Homo sapiens: one gene and its partners. The gene in region 3 interacts genetically with the main gene of each other region. Each region holds a gene or a part of one and is shown on either strand. Other genes may lie near its edges.

Evidence for each region. Genes that interact genetically often act in the same process or in processes that back each other up.
Region 1: changes in GBF1 (region 3) and XBP1 together harm fitness less than expected from each alone (positive genetic interaction), as found in Homo sapiens cells (one study listed by BioGRID).
Region 2: changes in GBF1 (region 3) and PTPN6 together harm fitness more than expected from each alone (negative genetic interaction), as found in Homo sapiens cells (one study listed by BioGRID).
Region 4: changes in GBF1 (region 3) and TMED10 together harm fitness more than expected from each alone (negative genetic interaction), as found in Homo sapiens cells (one study listed by BioGRID).

Annotation. Positions count from the first base shown.
Region 1 is NC_000022.11:28,797,770-28,801,909, forward strand, and holds the start of XBP1 (X-box-binding protein 1), read right to left. Parts: upstream 2,801-4,140; 5' UTR 2,756-2,800; coding exon 2,529-2,755; intron 2,309-2,528; exon of another isoform or gene 2,268-2,308; coding exon of another isoform or gene 2,191-2,267; intron 1,385-2,190; coding exon 1,288-1,384; intron 1-1,287. UniProt on the Homo sapiens protein: Functions as a transcription factor during endoplasmic reticulum (ER) stress by regulating the unfolded protein response (UPR).
Region 2 is NC_000012.12:6,954,356-6,957,855, reverse strand, and holds part of PTPN6 (tyrosine-protein phosphatase non-receptor type 6), read right to left. Parts: intron 3,052-3,500; coding exon 2,862-3,051; intron 2,706-2,861; coding exon 2,589-2,705; intron 2,485-2,588; coding exon 2,371-2,484; intron 2,197-2,370; coding exon 2,100-2,196; intron 1,715-2,099; coding exon 1,635-1,714; intron 1,438-1,634; coding exon 1,288-1,437; intron 203-1,287; coding exon 71-202; intron 1-70. UniProt on the Homo sapiens protein: Tyrosine phosphatase enzyme that plays important roles in controlling immune signaling pathways and fundamental physiological processes such as hematopoiesis.
Region 3 is NC_000010.11:102,252,032-102,255,531, forward strand, and holds part of GBF1 (Golgi-specific brefeldin A-resistance guanine nucleotide exchange factor 1), read left to right. Parts: intron 1-3,500. UniProt on the Homo sapiens protein: Guanine-nucleotide exchange factor (GEF) for members of the Arf family of small GTPases involved in trafficking in the early secretory pathway; its GEF activity initiates the coating of nascent vesicles via the localized generation of activated ARFs through replacement of GDP with GTP.
Region 4 is NC_000014.9:75,166,613-75,170,112, forward strand, and holds part of TMED10 (transmembrane emp24 domain-containing protein 10 precursor), read right to left. Parts: intron 1-3,500. UniProt on the Homo sapiens protein: Cargo receptor involved in protein vesicular trafficking and quality control in the endoplasmic reticulum (ER) and Golgi.

The sequences.
Region 1 (4,140 bases), on a different chromosome or scaffold from region 3:
GAGACTCCATCTCAAAATAATGATGATGATAATAATAATAATAATAATATAAAATAAAAATAAATAACTATCTTGAACTGGCAGGTAATAATAAAAGTGGTAGTGGTGACTATAAATCCAAAATAAGTTAAAAAAAATCCCTGCTCCTGACTCATGATTCTTAGAAGAACCAACTAATGATTAAAACTTTAAAAAGCTCAATATATGCAAATTGACCAAGGGGTTAAAAAAACAATATAAATAATCTCTATGTATTCAAGATGTGTAATTGGCAACAATTTAAGATTGATTAACAGGTGGACCCTAGAGGGGGAAAGGAACCTTTAGTGAATTTCTGGCCATGCCAGGAAGAATGTAAAGTTTAAGCAATTATTTCCTATTAGCCCTTGCTAATTTCTTACTACAAACTCAATAAACATTGTTAAATCCATCTACTTTGAGATACATCTAGCACCAAATGCCACAAAGTCAATCACTTCTGCCCTCAACAAGCTTCACCACTTCACCAACTCTCTGTCCTAACTTAGATTAACTTTTTTTTTTTTTTTGAGACAGGGTTTTTGCTCTGTCGCCCAGACTGGAGTGCAGTGGCATGATCTCGTGATCTCAGCTCACTGCAACCTCCGCCTCCTGGGTTCAAGTGATTCTCCTGCGTCAGCCTCCGGAGCAGCTGGGATTACAGGTGCCTGCCACGACACCCGGCTAATTTTTGTATTTTTAATAGAGATGGGGTTTCACCACGTTGGTCAGGCTGGTCTCGAACTCCTGATCTCAAGTTATCTACCCACCTTGGCCTCCCAAAGTGCTGGGATTACAGGTGTGAGCCCCGGTGCCCAGCAAACTTTTTTTTTTTTTCTTGAGACAGAGTCTCACTCTGTTGCCCAGGCTGGAGTGCAGTGGTGCGATCTCAGCTCACTGCAACCTCCCTCTCCCAGGTTCAAACAATCCTCCCACCTCAACCTCCCGAGTAGCTGGGACTACAGGCACTCACGCTTGGCCTTTTTTTTTTTTTTTTTTTTGGTATATTTTTGGGTAGAGACGGGATTTTACCATGTTGGCTAGGCTGGTCTCAAACTGCTGGCTTCAAGTGATCTGCCCAACTCAGGCTCCCAAAGTGCTGGGATTACAGGCATGAGCCACCATGCCCAGCCTAGTTTAACTTTTAATCATATATTCAATTGTATTCTAATAGGGGCTGAAACAACTTGGGATGGGAAGCAAATATCAGAACATTCACCAAGGAAGGGTATACAATGGATAAAAGAGTTTGACCTTAAGTAGTTTTACCTCTTCTTCTAAATCTACCACTTGCTGTTCCAGCTCACTCATTCGAGCCTTCTTTCGATCTCTGGCAGTCTGAGCTGCTACTCTGTTTTTCAGTTTCCTAGGAAGAGAAGGAACATACCACACTGAGTCATATCAAACCTTATTTATGTCTTTATTTGAAAACTTTACCAGCTGGTGCTTTCATTTTTATTTACAGTATAAGACAGACTAATGATAAAATACACTTCAGGCTCCTCCCCTCAATAAAACAAAATAAAAAATACAGTCTTCTGTCAATCTAGCTCGAAGACCTGCTTTATTCTCTCCTATATTGCATCATCCGTCCACCTCAGACTCATCCCCGTCACAGCACTGGGGCTGGACACACACACTATTCATCTTGCATCATAAGGAACTTTCCTCTTTCCCCATCTATTCCCCCGCTGCTTCCTGTCTCCAGTTCTCTTAAACAGGATCCAACCTGGCCTCATTAATCTAGTGAAGGCTGCAATCTTGCTATGACATCAACCCTCCGTCCCCCAGTCCAATTTAGAAAAGGGAGAGGCTGATGCCACTCCCTGATCTCTAGTGTTGAGATCCTAGGCAGTGACCTGCTGATGGGTCCGTGTCTGTTGGAGGAGACACTTTTTTTTTTAAAAGAATTAACTCAGAAGAGACACTTCATAAATCACAGAAGGCACAATGATCACAAAAGAGTGAACATTTACGGAGGACTAAGTGCTAGGCACATTATATCCAAGTCTCAATCTCCCCAAAGACCTCATGAAGTAGGTTCCATTTTAAGAACGCAGATACTGAGCTAGACCAGTGAGCCTCGCAGAATTCCCAGCCCTTTCAACAGCTCTGTTATTTCAGCTCCGCGCCTCTCCAGAAATAGCAGTAAACCAAAACAGATTATTCGACCTCATGTCCGAGTTAAGAGGCTGAACCACCAGTCTGCGGCCACACAGCAAGAGGGCCTGGAAGACAGGTGCCCGCATCCCCAGCTCTGGTCATCTCTAACGAGAGAGTTAAAAAGTACAGAAAAGAGCCCTGGGCCGCCCTAGGTTCCCAGCGTGGCGGATCCGGTCAGTCCGGGCTTCCTGCCCCGCCCCGCGCCACGCTGGCACCGACCCGCCAGGCCAAAGGCGACGGAGCCCTGCGGGGCGGCCAGTGCTGGGTCCCCGCTCCCAGCCCCTGCCCCTGCCCCTGTCCCTAGTCCCGGCTTCAGATCTGGCCCCAGACCCCGGCCCCTCGCCCACCTCCTCAGCGCCTTCTCCTCGGGGCTCAGGTGCGTGAGGCGCTGTCGCTTGCGCGCCTGGGGCAGCCCCCCGCTCGCTGCCTCCGGGCTGGCCCCTCTCTGGGCTGGCACCATGAGCGGCAGGGCCTGGCCGGCCGGGGCTCCGGCGGCGGAGGCGGGCTGCCCCGACAGAAGCAGAACTTTAGGGGTCCCGTCGGCCGGGTTCGGCGCGGCTGCCACCACCACCATAGCTCCAGACTACGCACCGCGCACCGCGCGCCGCAGCCGCCCAGCGCCCAGCCTCGCCGCGCCCGGCCTTTCTACGGTCGTGGCCCTCCGCGATTGGCCAGCGTCGCGTGACGCACGGCCGAGCTCGGCGTCCATTGGTCCGGCCTGCCCGGCGGGGCGTTTCAGGACCGTGGCTATGGAGTCCGGCGTGGCAGCGGCAATCCCTGGCCAAAGGTACTTGGGGTCATTTTCCGCGGGGGGTTACGTGCGGGAGCGTGTCCTCCACAAACGGATTTTCCCCCCTTAAGCGGACTTATTTCCATCCGGAGTGACAGAATTTAATTCCAAACCGAGAGCTTTCCAGACTGACGAATTTTTACCGGGACTAACAGAGAATTACCTCAGCCTGACAACATTTTATCTCGTGCGCCACTTCGGGATCCGAGTGGAGCCGAAAGTCGAGATAGAGCGCAGTTGGGCCTTGGGTTCGAAAAGACTGGACAGAGGTTTCAGTGAGCCGAGATCGCGCCACTGCACCCCGGCCTGGGCGACAGAGCGAGACTCCGTCTCAAAAAAAGAAAAAGAAAAAAGCCTGGAAAGAAATTCTGCGGAATAGAAGTCTTTAAGAAATGAGATCGTGCCCTTTAAAACTAAGTTTAACAATAGTGAGGGCTTAATAAACGATAGGTGTTATCTCTGGGTTGGAGGGGAATACCTTCAATTTTAGTTTTTCGTTCCATTTCTAAAGTTTGTACTATGAGCGTGCATTTTTTTAAATTTAGTTTTATTTTATTTTTTAAATAGAAACGAGGTCTCACTGTGTTGCCCAGGCTGATCTCGAACTTCTGAGCTCAAGTGAACCTCCCGCTTCGGCCTCTATTATTTTTATTTTATTTTTTTTTCTTATTTTTTGAGACGGAGTCAGGCTCTGTCACCAGGCTGGAGTGCAGTGGCGAGATCTCAGCTCACTGCAACCTTCGCCTCCGGGTTCAAGCAATTCTCCTGCCTCAGCCTCCCGAGTAGCTGGGACTACAGGCGCCCGCCACCACACCCGGCTAATTTTTTGTAGTTTAGTAGAGGCGGGGTTTCACCGTGTTGGCCAGGATGGTCTCCATCTCCTGACCTCGTGATCGCCCGCCTCGGCCTCCCAAAGTGCTGGGATTACAGGCGTAAGCCACTGCGCCCAGCCTCTTGTTATTTTAAATGAGGGGACAGGAAAACGTCACATGTAGAGACTGAGACCCCGGGGTTGACCCTGAGCCCCCTCTCCGAGGGGAGGTCGAGGTTCCTGCCTGGCCATTGTGGCGTGAGGGTGGCCAGGTGTTTGTGAAAGAGGGGCCCCCAGAGAGCAGCACGGGAGCGATTTATACACACGAATATTAACATGGAGAAGTCCGAGAAACCCC
Region 2 (3,500 bases), on a different chromosome or scaffold from region 3:
ACCCGACCAGAGAGGAGAACAAGTCCAGGGAGGGACTCCCGGAATGGGGCAGGGCGTGGGGGCCACTCACATTGTCCAGCGGGGAGACCTGTAAGGTACGGAGTTTGTATTCGGTTGTGTCATGCTCCCCGCAGTTGGTCACAGAGTAGGGCCCATAAGCACGCTGCATGCCCACCTCGGGCCAGTATGGGACGCATTTGTTCTGGAAAGGGAGGGTCGGGTGGGGATGAGGCACAGAGCAGGGCACTGTGGCCCATCCCAGGTCCTGCTCTATGTTCTGAGTGCCTGGCACCGGCCCAAACATTTGTTGGATGGACGGATGGGCTGGCAGAGAGGCAGGAGACCTGGGCTCTCGTCTCAGATCAACCACCAACAGGTGGTGAGGCCTGGCCAGCCACTTCACCGGTACATCCGTTTGTCATTCAACAAACGTTGCCAGGGCAGGCATTGTCCCCGAAGCTGTGCAAACCACACAGCTTCACAGACACAAATAACACCCAGTCTGTGCCCCTGTGCCTCGAGGAGCTCACAGAGACAGGTGACCGGGGGAGACACCGCGCTGAGGAGCGTGGCTGGGAAAGACGTAATTCTCCCTCTAGGTCCTGGAGGAAACAAGACCTGGATTCACAGAGGAGGCAGCGCTCCGGCTGTGTCTTCAAAAACGAGGCATCTGCCAGGCAGAGATAGTGTGGAGAGAGTCATTTCCTAGCAGAAAATGAGCTTGTGCAAAGAAAGGCTGGGAACCTGAAAGAGCTGGGGCTGCTGGGGGCGGTGAGCCTTCAAGAGAAGCGTGCGGGTCAGAGGGAAGCCACCAGACCTTGAATGCCAGGCCTTAGAGTGCGACTTTATCCCAAAGGTGACCAGGAGCCATGGAAGAGATTTCAGAAAGGAAGGAACTTGACCCAGTTTGTGTCACGGATGGGATCACTTCAATGGCAGCACAGAGGGTGCTGTGTAGGGGGAGCCTGCAGGGTAAGGGGCAGACTCCAGAGAGATCTATGGGGCAGGGAGGACAGGAGGGGCCTGGATGCAGACAGGTGGGGCAGGGGTAGGAGGAAGGAGGACAGCCTGGAACCTGGGTCTGGAGCTCAGAAGAGCCCAGGGATGCATGCAGGGATCTGGGGGTCACGTTGTGTAGTCGAGACTTTGTCACTAGCCCTCAGTTTCCCAACAAGGGCCGGACCCTCACCCCTGAGATCCCTTTCTGCCCTGGCATCTGACTGCTCTTCGACTTAATGGCATGACCACAAGCACGGGGGCGGATGCGGGGAAGGGGGGGCGCCCTACCCGGCCTTTCTCCACCTCTCGGGTGGTCATGACGATGACACGGCTGTTCTCCTGCCACGCCATCTGCCAGAAGTCATTGACCGTGGCCTCCAGACAACCCTGGCTGGCGATGTAGGTCTTAGCGTTCTCATCAGGGCCTAGCAGCTGGTTCTGGACGCAAGCGTGGAGAGACGCACCCCAAGACAGTGAGCCCCTTGGCCCAGCACAGGCCCTGAACCACTGCCACCCTCACCCATGCAAGAAGCCAGCTTCGGCTTTGCCCAGCTGTCTCTGGATCTAGGGTCCCCCCACCAGACAGGGAATTCCCAGGGCCCAGCCTCTCCTCCCACGTGGCCCACACTGCTGACCTTGATGTAGTTGGCATTGATGTAGTCGGACCCGGGGATGTTACTGTCCCGTCCCTGCAGGATCACTCGGCTGTGGTCAACTGGGAGTGGGCGGAGAGGAGGCGAGATGGTCTGGGTTAGCCAGGGACTCACCACACCTGGGTCAGACCCTCCTGAGCTAACAGGCCATTCTGGTCTCAGAAGCCATGAGGCTTGCGGGGGACTGTGGGCAGCAGGGGTGGGGGATCATCTGTATGGAGGGAGTGAGGGAGTTCACAAGGAGGTTGGGAGCAGGGGGCAACCTGCCTGCTGGTGGTGGGGAGGCACTTCTGGGAGGAGTAGAGGCCTTTTGGAGAAGGGGGAGGCTCTGTGGGGGGTGTGGGGAGATGGCCCCTCCTGGCGTGGAGGGTGGAGACCTGTGAGATGAGGGGAGGCAGCTGGGGCAGGGGCGGTATCCTGGGTGAATGGGGCAGCCTGGGTGCTCACAGGGGAGAATGTTCTTGTAGCGGTTCTTGCCCTTGTTCTCTGGCCGCTGCCCTTCCAGACGCTGGTGCAAGTTCTTCACCTCCTGCTTCTGCAAACTCTGAGATGTGGGTGGGGAAATGAGCATCAGCTCCCAAAGAGGGCATCCATCGGGGGAGCTCACGTGGGGTGGGTCAGGAGCAGAGGTGGGCAAGGAGGGGAAGGTGTCCGCCTGGGGCCCCAGGCCGCTGCCACCACCTCAGCTGCCCCAGCCCTGCCGGTCCCCACCATGCACCTCAAACTCCTCCCAGAAGCCAGCCTTGGCTGTATCCTCGGACTCCTGCTTCTTGTTCAGTTCCAACACTCGGTTCTCAATGTCAGCCGCATTCACCCTCGTGGCATAGTACGGCTGGGGTGGGGAAGAGCGAGAAGTCAGCAACTCAGAGATCCCAGAAGCTCACATCTGGGGGACAGCTCAGGGGAAGTGGGGAGGCAGCTGGGCCCACCCCTGACCTGCCGCAGGTAGACAAAGGCGCCTGAGGCCTCCTCAATCCCCGTCTTCTTGAAATGCTCCACCAGGTCCGTGAGGCTGTCGAAGGTCTCCAAACCACCCACTGTGTAGCGTCCACCCTGGGGGGAGCCAAATTAGGCCATTCACAGGACTTGAGTCTCCCTCCCTGGGTCCCCAGCCTTGAATTCAAGCCCAGGCAGACCCTCCCTGCCACCCACACTGTGGTCACAGACAGGAGCCTCAGCAGAGGCTCCCCCGCCGCCTGGCTGCCTTACCTCGCACATGACCTTGATGTGGGTGACCCTGAGCGGGGAGCCTGGGCCAGCCTTGGGCTGGTCACTGAGCACAGAAAGCACGAAGTCTCCAGGCTGGCTGAGGCTCTCACGCACAAGAAACGTCCAGGGCTCGCCCTTGGCCTGCAGCAGCGTCTCTGCCTGCCCGCCAGACATGTGGCCATGGTACCACCTAGAGAAGGCAGCGTCAGGGAAGGTAAGACCCAGGCCACAGGGGAAGGCGCTGAGCAGAGACATTCACAGAGAGGGGCCGGAAATCAAGCACCTACTGTGTGCCAGGCACTGCGCTACATGCTTCCAAATCCACCACCTCATTTAGGTCTCTCACAAACATGCTGAGAGCTAGGTATGATATTACCCCCATTTTATAGATGAGGAAACTGACGCTGAGCTGTTACTCACTGGCCTAGGGCCCTTGACTGACTCTAGGGCAAGCTTCCAGAGCTCTGTTGCCCAGGCTGGAGTGCAGTGGCGCGGTTACAGCTCTCTGCAGCCTCGACCTCCCAGGTTCAAGCCATCCTAGCCTCCAGAGTTCTAACCGGGCTTCGAACCCAGAGCCCACCTCTGAAAGGCAGAAAGGCTGGCAATATTCAAAATATTTGGAGGAGAGAAGCTAAGGAT
Region 3 (3,500 bases):
TACTCTGCTAAAAAAGTGGAAAAAAGGGCTGGGCGCAGTGGCTCACACCTGTAATCCCAGCACTTTGGGAGGCCGAGGTGGGCAGATCACCTGAGGCCGGGAGTTTGAGACCAGCCTGACCAACACGGAGAAACCTCATCTCTACTAAAAATACAAAATTGGCCCGGCATGGTGGCGCATGAATGTAATCCCAGCTGCTGGGAGGTTGAGGCAGGAGAATCGCTTAAACCTGGGAGGCAGAGGTTACGGTGAGCCGAGATTGTGCCATTGCACTCCAGCCTGGGCAACAAGGGGGAAACGCTGTCTCAAAAAAAAAAAAAAAGTGGAAAAATAAATAAATAAATAAATAAGTGGTTTTAAGATTGTTCTTAGAACCACTGTGATATTCTGACTCCCTCATTGACTTTTGGATGGAATGAGTAAGGGTTTATCAGGTGGACAAGAGTGAGAAAAAACATTCAGAATAGAAAGGGAGCTTCATATGCAAAGGCAAAGAGGCAGCAAAGACCATGACTTTAAAAAGTAGGAATGATGTGGCGTGGTGGCCCACACCTATAATCCCAGCATTTTGGGAGGCCAAGGCAGGCAGATTGCTTTGAGCTCTGGAGTTTGAGACCAGCCTGGGCAACATGGCAAAATGTTGTCTCTACAAAAAATACAAAAAAATTAGCCAGGCATGGTGACTCATGCCTGTAGTTCCAGCTACTTGGGAGGCTGAGGTGGGAGGATCGCTTGAGCCTGGGAAGCAGATATTGCAGTGAGTCAAGATTGTACCACTGCACTCCAGCCTGGGCGACAGAATGAGACCCTGTTTCAAAAAAAAAAAAGGAACTTTTTAACTTTTTAGGGTCTTTTATTTTATTTTATTATTATTATTTTTTGAGCCGGTGTCTTGCTCTGCTGCCCAGGCTGGAGACCAGTGATGCAATCTTGGCTTACTGCAACCTCCACCTCCTGGGTTCAAGCAATCCTCCTGCCTCAGCCTCCTGAGTAGCTGGGATTACAGGCCCCTGCCATCATGCCCAGCTAATTTTTGTATTTTTAGTAGAGTGGGGGTTTCACCATGCTGGCCAGGCTGGTCTCAAACTCCTGACCTCAGTTGATCTGCCTGCTTTGGCCTCCCAAAGTGCTGGGATTACAAGCATGAGCCACTGCCCCCAGCCGAGGGGCTATTTTAGACAAAGAATATGTGTAGCTTATATGGGGCACCAATGGCTGCCACCCAGCTTGAAAAATAACATCACCAAAACTGAGGCTGCATGTATGTATGCCCTTCCCTGTTAGTTCCCCCACACTCCCTGCCGCTTGCCACTATTCTCAATTTTTTTGTGTGAGCTTCTCTGGGGTATAGTCCTAGAAGTGGAATTGCTGAAATATAGGATATGAAGTGCTTTAGCTTTGTAAGATAATGCCAAATTGTTATTCAAATTCATATTAATTTAGATACATACCAGCCACTTGGTCTGCATTTTTTACCAACTTAAAAACAATTTTTTTTTTGAGACAGGGTCTTACTCTGTTGTCCAGGCTGGAGTACAGTGGTGTGATCGTGGCTCACTGCAGCCTTGACCTCCTAGGCTCAAGTGATCCTCCCACTTCAGCCTCTCAAGTAGCTGGGACTACAGGCACATGCCACCATGCCCTACTAATTTTTAAATTTTTTGTAGAGATGGAGTTTTGCTATGATGCCCAGGCTGTTCTCAAACTCCTTGGCTCAAGTGATCCTCCTGCATCGGCCTCCTAAAATGCTGGATTATAGGCGTGAGCACCTGGCCTTTTAAGTATTATCAGATTTAAAGTGTTTTGCTATTTCAGGAATGTAAAGTGGTATATCATTATAATCTTATTTTGTAATTTTCCTGATTATTAATGAAGCTAATAATCTTTTCATATATTTATTTGCTGTTTATGTTTCCTATTCTGTGAAACACCTATTCATCTCTGTTGCCAATTTTGGGGAGGGGTTATATGTCTAGTTCTTATAGTTTTGTAGCAGTTATTGTATACTCTGGATATTACTCCTTTATATTAGTTATATGTGCCTCAAATATTTTCTTCTGGTTTGTGCCTTATCTTTTCCCTCTTTTTTATGTTGTCTTTTGAACAGGCATTTTTAATTTTAACATGGTTGAATTCACCAATTTTTTAAAGAGGTTTTGCTTTTTGTTTCTTGTTTAGGTACTTCTCCCTTATGCTGAGTTTATAAAAATACTCTCCTGTAGCCAGGTGCTGTGGCACACACCTGTTGTCCCAGCTACCCAAGAGGCTGTTGTGGAAGGATTGCTTGAGCCTAGGAGTTTGAGTCCAGCCTGGGCAACATGGCAAGACCCTATCTCTAAAAAAAAATCAAAAAGAAAATATTCTCATATATTAGCTTCTAAGAGATTTCAAGTTTTGCTTTTCATATTTAAATAACCTGAGATATATTTTTGGTATTCCATTAAATAAGAATACAATTTATTGTTTCTTTTTCTCCTGCTTTTGTTGGATATAGACAGAGTTGCCAAGTGATACAGTGACTCCTCTTTGGATCCTGTTGAGGTAACTGGGATGCCACAAAGCACTAGGGGAATGTTCTAGACCCAGCTTTAAATGGACAGTGGTTTCAAGGGTACATGTTACTCAGAGTCTCTGGGCCAGTGGCTTATCTGGCTAAGGGTGTTAGTTGGTATTTATTTAGTTGTTCCCTCTCTTATTTATTTTTTTCTATTAATTTTTCATTTGTGTGGGTACATAATGAATGTATTTCTCTTGTTATTTCTGACACAAGATAAATCTTAAGTTCGTTTCTACTATACTTTTATGAGGTTTCTGCAGGCCTTTATGACCTTGTGACAAGGGATTTCTTGGCCATTGGCTACCAGGCAGCAAGTGGTTCATCAGTTTCCCATCTGAAGCTGAAGGGCACAACTGTTTGGAGATTCCCTGAGTGAGGGGACATACTCAGAGACCTAGAAGGAGATTAGGCAGCTCTGCATAGTACTTGAAAATAATTCCTCTTCATTCCCTAGATGTTTCTTTTTTTTTGAGACAGAGTCTCACTCTGTTGCCCAGGTTGGAATGCAGTGGCGCGATCTCGGCTCACTGTAACCTCCACCTCCTGGGTTCAAGTGATTCTCCTGCCTCAGCCTCCCAAGCAGCTGGGATTACAGGTGTGTGTCACCACACCTGGCTAATTTTTGTATTTTTAGTTGAGGTGGCGTTTCACCATGTTGGCCAGGCTGGTCTTGAACTCCCAACCTCAGGTGATCTGCCCACCTCAGCCTCCCAGAGTGCTGGGATTATAGGCGTGAACCACTGCGCCCAGCCCTAGATGTTTCTTTTTTACAATGATTTTTTGCTTAGACCTTTGCTGTCTTAGAAAGTGGTTACTTCTTTTCTAAAGGGCTTATTCATTTTTAGTCAATCAGCTGATTAAAATTTAAAAGTAGTTAATAGGTAATATATGTTTGTGACACAAAATTCAAAAGGTAAAAAAGAATATACAGAGAAAAGTTAGT
Region 4 (3,500 bases), on a different chromosome or scaffold from region 3:
AGATTTAAATGAAGCAATGTATCCTTTAACTTTTATGGAGAAGGACGCAAAGGTCAAGTTATAATTAAAAGCTAGGAACTTTGTATATAATACAAAAAGAAATTCGATTTATATTATTAAATGTCAATGTACCAATTAGCCTTCTGTACTGAACCATCTATTTATTGACCTGTTTCTAACCCAGTGAACAACAGTCACGTTAAATTCACGCTGAAAGGGCCATATTTCTCCCTACAGAAAAAGTCTGGCATAAGTAAGGGTTCATGGGATCGTTATTGATAAAAAGGATGGTTCATTTCGATGACTGAGCAACATGCATCCTATTCCTTTTTTTTTTTTTTTTTTTTGAGACGGAGTCTCACTCTGTCGCCCAGGCTGGAGTGCAGTGGCGTGATCTCGGCTCACTGCAACCTCCACTTCCCAGGTTCAAGCGATTCTCCTGCCTCAGCCTCCTGAGTAGCTGGGACCACAGGTGCACACTACCACGCCTGGCTAATTTTTGTATTTTCAGTAGAGACAGGGTTTCACCATGTTGGCCAGGATGGTCTCATTCTCCTGACCTCGTGATCCACCCACCTCAGCTTCCCAAAGTGCTGGGATTACAGGCGTGAGCCACCACGCCCAGCCGAAGCATCCTATTCTTTCTCCTTGTCAGCACAGAACAGACCTCAGTACAGATACCAGTAATAAAAAAGCTGAAATACAGTAATTCCAAACAAAATAATCTGAAAACTATAGCATATATACCATCTTTTCCTTCCTTCCTCCCTCCCCTGCCTCTTCGCCCCTCTGCCTCTCTCTCTTTTCTCCTCCTCGCCCCCACCCCCACCACTGTCCTTTTCTCCTTCCTCCTCCCTCTCCTCTCTGTCCTCATGCCTGGCCTATAGTATCTTCTCATACAGCTTTGGGTGAGGGAAAAAAGAAGTTATAAGCCAATAGTTTCCCAACTGCCAAGTTACTTCTTCATAATTTTTAGGCTTAAGTTGTGGTAGGCCTGTGATTCAAGGCTGAACTCTTTAAGGGATCTGTTTGGCTTTCTTATCTATAAGCTAGTTGGGAAGGACAGAAATCATAACTTGGTATAAGATCCAAATTTTCAGCCAGGTGCAGGGGTTCATGCCTGTAATCTCAGTGCTGTGGGAGGATCACTTGAGGCCAGGAGTTCGAGGTTGCAGCGAGCTATGATCATGCCACTGCACTCCAGCCAGAGCAAAATAATAATAAAAATATTACCCAAATTTCTGAGTCCCTACAACAGGCTTTTATTATGGACCTGAAGTAATGGAGGAAACTTCTATATTCACTGTAAATGACGAGTTGATACTTCCTGCTTCAATTATGTGCAGCAAAGTCTTTATACCTGACACTAGTTAGCCTGATTTAGCCTCACTTTATGAAATGAGTAGGGAAGTATGGAATAGACTCAGTTTGGAGATCTTAACACAAAATGCATCTCAATATAGGTCTGAAATAGAAATCTTTGCAGGAGAGGACCACCCATCATTTCAATCCATTTATCTCTCTCTGCTTCAGAAAGGCCTCCCCTGACCACTCAAACACCCTTTAACCCATCAGTCACCCCCTACTCCCTAGTGCCTGAACTTTCATTATAGTGCTTATCACTACCTGAAATTCTATTATTTTAACTTGTTTTTTGTCTTTGTTCCCCACAAGAGCTTGAGGACCTTGTCCCGTTTATCCCCATATTCTCAGCCAGGTCTGACACATACTAAATATTACATAAATATTTGTTGAATGAATGAAAGAATCACAAACTACTCATAATTCCTCTCATTAAAATACTCCATATCTACTTATTTCAATGACATATAGCATGAGGGGCTCTGAGAAGCAATTCAATTTTCATTCAATACAGAGGAAAGAAAAGAGTACTAACATCTATGGAGCACCATAATGGGCCCTGCACAATAAAAACCTCACCCATCTCAATCAGTCCTTCTAACAAGTTTATGAGCTCTACGATTCCCATATTACAGAAACAGGACCAGAGAAGAAGGGTTAAGTAATCCCTGCAAGACCCACATAACCTTTAAATGGTGGAGCTGCTGGGATCTGAACCAAATCTATCTTACTTCAGATCTAGTCTCTACCATACCACAAGGCTTCTCAAGAAGACTAAGATGTTTAACTCAGTTATACAACAATGTGTACGTTAAACTAAAGACACAAAGATGAGTAAGACATTAAAGAGTTCACAAAGTAAACACTACACTACATGAAAAGTGCCATGTAAAACAGGATGTAATGGTACTACAGTATCTTTTCATACAACTTTTGGTGAGGGGGAAAAAAGAAGTTATAAGCCAATGGGACACATAGGGGACACAGAAAGTCAAACATTGATCCAGGTAAAGAGAACATTATATTCAAAGAACTGTAAGGTGTTCAGTATAGCTAGAGTCAGAGTGGGAGGAAGCAAATAAAGAGAATGGAAGAGGGAAAGATCAGAGATGAGGCAAAGACAGTGCTTGCTCGTCTGTTCACTAATTCCTTAGGATAAGGTCCTACTATGTGCCAGGCCTTATTTTAGACAAGCATTGCAATGATGAATGAAACCTAGTCTCTGTTCAAGCAGCTTATAGTTTATCCCAGGAGATGGGCAAATACACAACTGCAACACAGAGTGGTATATGATAACATAGGTGCATTCACTGGATACTGAGATGTTCCTAGACAGAAAGAAGGTGAATCAGTCAGATTAACCAAGGCACTATATTCACAGAGACCCTTATAAGAAAGACTGCCTCAGGCTAGGCACAGTGGCTCACGCCTGTAATCCCAGCACTTTGGGAGACGGGCGGATCACCTGAGGTCAGGAGTTTGAGACCAACCTGGACAATATTGTGAAACCCCGTCTCTACTAAAAATACAAAAATTAGCCGGGAGTAGTGGTACGCGCCTATAATCCCAGCTACTTGGGAGGCTGAGGCAGGAGAATTGCTTGAACCTGGGAGGCAGAGGTTGCAGTGAGCCGAGATCATGCCATTGCACTCCAGCCTGGGCAAAAAGAGCGCAACTCCATCTCAAAAAAAAGACTGCCTCATTCAGCACAACCACCAAATGCTAAGCTCAGCTGGCCAGGTTCTGCACCAGTCTCCAGTTCTCCTCCTACCTCAAATCAAACCACAGCTGCCTAAAGCAGGGGTGGAAATATGACCAAAGACAAGACAATCCATTGGCTGAACTGAGACCTAGAATGTGGCCTACCATATGAAAAGGAGCTCTGGCACTTAGGAGTTGCACTCCAGAAGCTAAAATGATGCATAGGGAGAATCCTTGAAGCAGTCGTCAAAATATAAGAAAAAGTGGAACGGCCGGGCGTGGTGGCTCATGCCTGTAATCCCAGCACTTTGGGAGGCAGAGGCGGGCGGATCATGAGGTCAGGGGATTGAGACCATCCTGGCTAACACGGTGAAATACAAAAAATACAAAAAATACAAAAAATTAGCCGGGCGTGGTGGCGGGCGCCTGTAGTCCCA